2 linked regions of the Homo sapiens genome follow. The protein of the gene in region 2 interacts with the protein of the main gene of each other region in a pairwise test. Each region holds a gene or a part of one and is shown on either strand. Other genes may lie near its edges. The genes, in order: AATF and ZNF468.

Region 1 (3,822 bases), on a different chromosome or scaffold from region 2:
GGTGAACGTGGACTGGTACAGCCATTATGGAAAACTGTAAGGAGTTACTAAAAAAACTAAAAATTCAACTATCCTACGATCAAGCAATCCCATTTCTGGGTATATATACAGATCAACGGACATTACTGTGTTGAAGGGACACCTGCACTCCCACGTTCATTTCACCCACAACAGCCACGCTATGCAAACAATCTACATGTCCGCCAGGGTGAGTGGGTCAAGGAAACGTCAAGTCTGACATTGTATGAGGAGGCCACTGGACTAGAAAAAAAAAAGCTCAGTAAATGTGTCATCCACTAGAACCAAACCAGACTGACTCTCAGCCTCTTAAGAAATCACAAGCGGTGGTGGCGGTAACAATGCTCTTTATTTGTGGCGTTTAAAGGCGGGGTTGGGCGGGACAGCGCCCTTGCGTGTATTAGGCACAGGTTCGGAACGCAGCATCTTTCCAGGGGCTTCCCTACTAGCTCAGCCCCATAAAGTCACTGGTTTCCTCCATCTGGACCAGCAGCCGCACCAGCCAAGGCGCCCACTGGGTGTCGGAGGTGGGCGATGTCAATCCCCGTGGCCTTCGTCGGGAGGGTGGAGCTGGCCAAAAAGAGAGCGGTACAGTTCTGTCCTAAAAGACAAACACAGCAAACTGGTTAACACACTGGTTCACTATTCAAGGTTAAAAAGGAACGCAGAAGCTGGAAAATACCCCATTCTGTTTCTTCTGTTGAAAACACAGCCATGTAATTAAAAATGCACCCCACAGCTCTTACTCACAAATACAACAGAAGGAAGAAACCCAATCAAACAGTAAAATATGTAAATGGTCCAGTGCGGCTGGACACCCGTCTCCAGGGAATGAGTGTTCTGTAAGTTTGCCCTTTGCAGACAGGCTCTTCAAGTAAGAAAACAAGATTGAATATTTTAATAGGATGTAGGAGACCGCCATCCGATGAGGAGGATTCAATCAGACATGGGATGTAGGGGGATATAATTTAGTTTTCATACATTTTCTTGGACTTGGCAGTACTTGAAAAACAATGAAAATGAGCCAGCAACACGATTCCAATTACTATCATCTGTGCAGTTGTTCAGGAAGAGAACCAAGCTTCTTCCACACTCCCCAGCTGCCCTGTCTCTATTCTCAGTCTAATAAATAATATGATTGGCTAATTTATTTCTAAAGTTGGGTTTTGACATTAAAACAATAACATGCCAGGGTCTTGGGCCCCTAAAAAGAAAAGTAAATGACCACTTTCAAACTCTTTTAAATGCAACATACACACAAACATCGGCCAAAGCCATGTGTCAAGGCCTGGAAAACCTAAAAGGGGTGTGGGTGGGGCAGGGATCTTTCCTATCGTTGAGACAGAAGCTCCAGAACACTTTCCCCTGTGGATACAGAGCAGATCCTCCCTGCAGAGACATGAGGGACCCATGAGGTTCCAAGCAGGCAAGACCCGTGTGAGGACGTCCCTGTCATCAGGGAGGTGGGCGTGTAGCACGTGGCCGCAGAGGCAGCCATCCATGTCCACGCCCTGCAGAAGGCCCAGCCGGTAGCCCTCACAGAGACAGGGCAGGCGCACACAGGGCTGAGGTCATGGGCCAGGAGCCCCAGAAGAAATCTACACCTGCTCGGATATTCTCAAGATGGAACTCAAATTCCAGCCTGCCGTCTTGTTTTAAAAGTGCTCTCATCATCTGAGGGTCAGCATCGGCACATCAGACTTTAAAAGCAAAACCAAAAAACCCCACCTTTCAAACAGCAAGGCTTCAACACAAAAAACTACTGGTCTTTTTTTGAAGTCACCCTACTATAGTTATGGATAGGAATAAAGGTACTACAATTAGGAAATCCAACAAAAGGAATAGAGTATCAAAGCTTTAAAAAAGTCAAAAGAAAAACATCTTAAGGAAGAACTACAGAAGCCACAAATGTAAGCTAGCCTTATCATGTTGGGGACCGCGGGAGGGACAGGCAGTGAAAGTGCAGGCCAGAAAACAACAGGCCTCCAATTTTATTACAGGAATTTTATCCCAAGAATGTGCTGGTGCCTTCACCCTGAACTACCCAGCAGACCCCTAGGCCACAGACAAAGGACACAGCTTCCCCCTTGGCTCCACCCATCTCTTCTGCTCTTCTGTTACACACATCCATGTGACTAGCCTCAATCAGCCCAGACGAAGCCTGCCAAGGTGGACGGCAGCCCCAGACCAAATGCAAACCCACGGCTTCCAAATCAGCAGCTCCGTCACACGGATACTTCGGTGCCCAGGGCAGGCTCCACTTCATCACACCATGGCCTGCCTATTTGCCAGTAAAGACAAGTCTCTCTAGCTGTTTCCACACAAAAAATTAAATGGCGTGAAAGGGAGAGTTGCCATAACAAAAGGACAGTGTGACTTTAGGACAACAACGTCTGATGAGAAAGAAATGCAGAGGCGCGAGGCTAGCCCTTCACATCATACCCTTTCCAGCCTCGCCGCGCTTGCCTGCACCAGACCCCATCATTACCACTGAGCAAATGCTTCCACTCTGCGCGCAATATCAGTGCAACGCCTGGGCCGAAGGCAGCAGTTACTGTCCGCAGCAGGGTTCACGTGTCAGGAGCAGAGAGTGAAATGCTGAAACCCATGTTTTCATAGAACATCATTTCACACTCAGGTGGGCAAAGCTGACAAACATATGCAGCTGTTCATGGCAAAGCAACCTGGGAAGCTGAGTGGTCTGGGTTCTTAAAATATTTTCAGAGAGAGAGAATATCAATAGGGGATTATTTCAATCTAAAAGTCCCCAAGCAATTTCAACTTTTACATCTTCCTCACCCACTATCACCAGCTGGTGACCGTTTTTACCTTCAAAGCATCTCAAACTTCACAGCTCCTCCAGGCTTCCACTAGGTCAGATCTCACCGTTTCTCATGAAGCACACAGCAACAACCTCCTGGCTGACTCTTCCACTCCCTTCTCTGAGACAGACAAAGCAGACCCTCCCTGGGGCCCAGGAGCAGCATGGGGATGAAGATCCCCGCCCCACACGCCCCCCACCAGCCACCCCCACTGTAGATTCCAGCGGTTCAGCTTGGCCTCAGCCCTTCCTCTTTCCAGGTCCTGGCTTTGGCTCCTGCCCTGAGCAGCTGGGTGGTACAGGGAGGCACAGCCCTTCCTCCCTCTTTACTAGGTTGGAGAAGGTAGGGTTGCACATTTTTATAACGTTTTTCACAGTAAGTTTAAATAGTTACAAAATATATAATGACCAGGATGTTGTGAAAATTAACTTTTGTAATGCCTGCAATGGAACCTACATGCCATAATGATTTGATACTCATCGTTCATTCAAGTAACACATAAACTATTTTTTTTTGAGATGGAGTCTCGCTCTGTCGCCAGGCTGGAGTGCAGTGGCGCAATCTCGGCTCACTGCAACCTCCGCCTCCCGGGTTCAATCGATTCTCCTGCCTCAGCCTTCCAAGTAATTGGGACTGCAGGTGCGCACCACCACGCCCGGCTAATTTTTTATTTTTAGTAGAGACGGGGTTTTACCATGTTGGCCAGGATGGTCTCCATCTCTTGACCTCATGATCTGCCCGTCTTGGCCTCCCAAAGTGCTGGGATTACAGGCGTGGGCCACACATAAACTTTTTAACTTGGACATTTTATAGCACCTTTTTCTTTTTAAATTTTATTTCCACCTGACTTTTCCCTACAGAGTTTTGTCCTAATATAATGGTTTCATGCTTGAATGTCTTTTATCAATCACCCTTATCATACTTCTTGGCCACATTAGTCTGTAAATAAAAGCACTTTTGAAATTTTTAAAATTCAAAAAAT
Region 2 (3,822 bases):
TTTGATTAAAAACCTTGCCACATTCATTATGCTTGTAAGGTTTCTCTCCAGTATGAATTGCCTTATGACTTACAGGGTTGAATTGTGATGGAAGGTCTTGCCACACTCATTACACTATTAAGGCTTCTCTCCACTATGAAGCCTATGATGGTATACAAGGGATGACATCTGACTGAAGGTCTTGCCACACTCATTACACTTGTAAGGTTTCTCTCCAGTATGAAGCCTACGATGGATTATAAGCGATGATGTCTGACCGAAGGTCTTGCCACACTCATTACACTTGTAAGGTTTCTCTCCAGTATGAACTCTCTGATGTTGTGCCAGGTGTGAATCCCTCTGGAAAGCCTTGTCACAAACCTTACATTTGTATGGTTTCTCTCCAGTATGAATCCTCCTGTGTCTTTCCAGGTTTGATTTGCGACTGAAAACTTTGCAACATTCTTCACATTTGTAAGGTTTCTCTCCACTATGAATCCTCCTATGTCTTTCAAGGTGTGATTTGCGACTGAAAACTTTGTCACACTCTTCACATTTGTAAGGTTTCTCTCCAGTATGAAGTCTATGATGGCGTGCAAGGGTTGATAGTCGATTAAAAACTTTGCCACATTCATTACATGTGTAAGGTTTCTCTCCAGTGTGAAGTATAGTATGTTTTGCCAGATATGAATTATATGCGAAAGCCTCATCACAAACCTTACATTTGTATGGTTTCTCTCCAGTATGAATCCTCTTATGTCTTTCAAGGTGTGATTTGCGACTGAAAACTTTGTCACATTCTTCACATTCATAAGGTTTCTCTCCAGTATGAAGCGCTTTGTGAATGAAGAGGGATGAATTATGACCAAAGGTCTTGCCACACTCATTACACTTGTAAGGTTTCTCACCAGTGTGACATCTACGATGGCAGGCAAGGTATCGCTTCTGATTAAAGACCTTGCCACATACATCACATTTACATTGTTTCTCTTCTAAGTGAATTATCTGATGTTTTTTTAAGAGTGAGCTGCAATTAAAGGATTTGAAGCTCTGTATACATTCAAAAGATTTTTCTCTCATGTGTACTTCCCATTTTTGTGTGAGTAATGAAGAATGGAGGGAATTATTTCCATACTTATTAGAAATATGGGTTTTGGGCCTACAACAAATTCTTTGGGATGTTGAAACTGAGGAAGCATTGTTGATAGACTTCTCAACTTGATTACCAATTTTCCCTTCAGACTGAAATATGTGCGGTTCAGGCAGATGCAAATGAAAGCTTGATCCAAGCTGATCTTTAATACGCTTGTTTCCAGCATGCCTTTGATCATGTTGGCCTGTACTACCAGCCAACTCTTTGATTTCTGTCATGGGTGCTGCATGGCCATTTGTTTCATCTTCTTTCCACTGAAACTCGAAGCCATGAATGTCTTTCTCAATTTCATGGAAACAAAATTCTCCAATGTGATGACTTGCTTGTCTGTGCAATGTCCCTGTGTGGATCACTTCTGTATTGCCTTGCCCTGTTGACGACAACGTCTTCAACATGCATTTGGAAGAGATATCTACAAAATTTAAACACCAATAGGTTTCCAATTAAGTACAGACGGTATATAATACTGAAATGTGTAAATATCACAGAAAAAAAACAATACTTATTTTCAACTTCCCAAACGTGAGCTTCAAAGTTTAGGAACACAAAAGGAGTAAGATTCTTTAATAAATAAAGGGCGATTACATGTGCTTCAAATCATTTCTATGGAAGCCTATTTCCAATATCATGACAAAACACTGACAGGGCACAAACACGTGTGAGTCTAAAGAAAGGAGTGTTTTTCCACTGTGACCCTAAAGTGTGTCACACTGTGCAAAATACATATCACTGTCACATCAGAGAAAAATATATATTCTCCATATTTACAGCGTATTTAGGGTATACAAATAAATGCTAAAGAACCACACAATATACTATATTGGTAAATAATCCACAACAAGCTCTTGTAAGAATAACCAAAATTAGTGGAAATTCTCTATTGTCAAACAATCACAGCACTGACAAGATAACAGAAGATTACAAAAATTAGCCAGGTGTGGTGGCCAGCACCTGTACTCCCAGCTACTCCAGAGGCTGCGTCACAAGTATTGCATTAAGCTAAAAGGCAAAGGTTGCAGTTAGCTAAGATTGCATCACTCCACTCCAGCCTTGGTGCAAAATGAGACTCCATCTCAAAAAAAAAAAAAAAAAAAAAAAAAAAGACATGGCATGGTGGCTTGTGACTCTAATCCCAGTAACTCCGGAGGCCGAGGAAGGTGGATCACCTCAGGTCAGGAGTTCAACCAGCCTGGCCAATGTGGTGAAACCCCGTCGCTACTAAAGACACAAAAAGTAGCTGGTATGGTCACAGGCACCTGTAATCCCAGCTCCTTGGGAGGCTGAGGTATGATAATCGCTTGAACTCGGGAGGCAAAGATTGTGGTGAGTTGAGATTGTGTCACTTTGCTCCACCCTGGACAACAGAGTGAGACTCTGTCTCAAAAAAAAAAAAAAAAAAAAAGAAAATGTTAATACCATATTTTTCTGAATAACTGTTACAAAATTACCTATATCCATGTGGAACAGTTATGTTGTGACTTTTTAAAAAATTTTTTGTATTTTTGTTTTTTTGAGATAGAGTCTCACTCTGTCACCCAGGCTGGAATGCGATGGCACGATCTTGGCTCACTGCAACCTCCACCTCCTGGGTTCATGCTAGTCTCTTGCCTTAGGTCCTGAGCACCTGGGATTACAGGCATGTGCCACCATGCCCAGCTAATTTTTGTATTTTTAGTAGAAATCAGGTTTCACCATGTTGGCCAGGCTGGTCTCGAACTCCTGACCTCAGGTGATCCACATGTCTTGGCCTCCAAAAGTCCTGGGATTACAGGTGTGAGCCACTGCACCCTGTGGCACTTTCTGACATTAATGGGGGGAGTGTGTCCGTTATATTGCATACCACATACCGAACACTCATATATAAATTCATAAAAATCAATTAATCAAATATTGCAACCCATGATAAAACAAGCAAGAAAATAATAAGTACATTTATACAGACTGAAGAATTCTAAACAATTCCCTCTTAAGAAAAAAGCCAAAACTTGTACTTATCACCAGCACACAGTGTAAGAACTGAAATAGATGTTAAGATCACTACCTTCTGATATATGAGGTCAAGAAAATACACAGCTTTACCAGGAACAAGAATTGACTAGCGGCCGGGTGCAGTGGCACATGCCTGTAATCCCAGCATTTTGGTAGGCTGAGGTGGGTGAATCATGAAGTCAGGAGTTGAAGACCAGCCTGGACAACATGGCGACACACCATCTCTACTAAAACTACAAAAAAATCAGCCAGGCATGAAGGAAGACGCCTGTAATCCCAGCTACTTGGGAATCTGAGGCAGGAAACATTTGAACCCAGGAGGCGGAGGTTGCAGTGAGACGAGATCATGCCACTGCACTCCAGCCTCAGTGACAGGATGAGACTTTGTCTCAAAGAAATAAAATAAGATAAATAACTACTTCTCAAATAAGCTTTGGTAGATGTGGTATTCTCTAAGAGGATGTCCCTGCAGATGCAGACATTGAGAGAATTTAGTCATGGGTGTTGACTACTCGTGAATAGGACTAGTGCATTTATAAAGGGACATTAAAGAGGTCCTTGCCTGTTCCTCTTTCCACCGTATTAGGACACAGCAGGAAGATGGCTGGGCTAAACCATGAAGAATGCTCTCACCAGGAAGCAATTTGGCTGGCACCTTGCTCTTGGATTTCCCACTTCCCAAATTCATTAGAAATAAATTT

What was found.
Region 1: the proteins of ZNF468 (region 2) and AATF interact in a two-hybrid assay, tested with the Homo sapiens proteins (one large-scale study listed by BioGRID and IntAct).

The regions. Positions count from the first base shown.
Region 1 is NC_000017.11:37,053,398-37,057,219, reverse strand, and holds the end of AATF (protein AATF), read right to left. Parts: intron 620-3,822; coding exon 556-619; 3' UTR 349-555; downstream 1-348. UniProt on the Homo sapiens protein: Part of the small subunit (SSU) processome, first precursor of the small eukaryotic ribosomal subunit.
Region 2 is NC_000019.10:52,840,608-52,844,429, forward strand, and holds part of ZNF468 (zinc finger protein 468), read right to left. Parts: intron 1,545-3,822; coding exon 118-1,544; 3' UTR 1-117. UniProt on the Homo sapiens protein: May be involved in transcriptional regulation.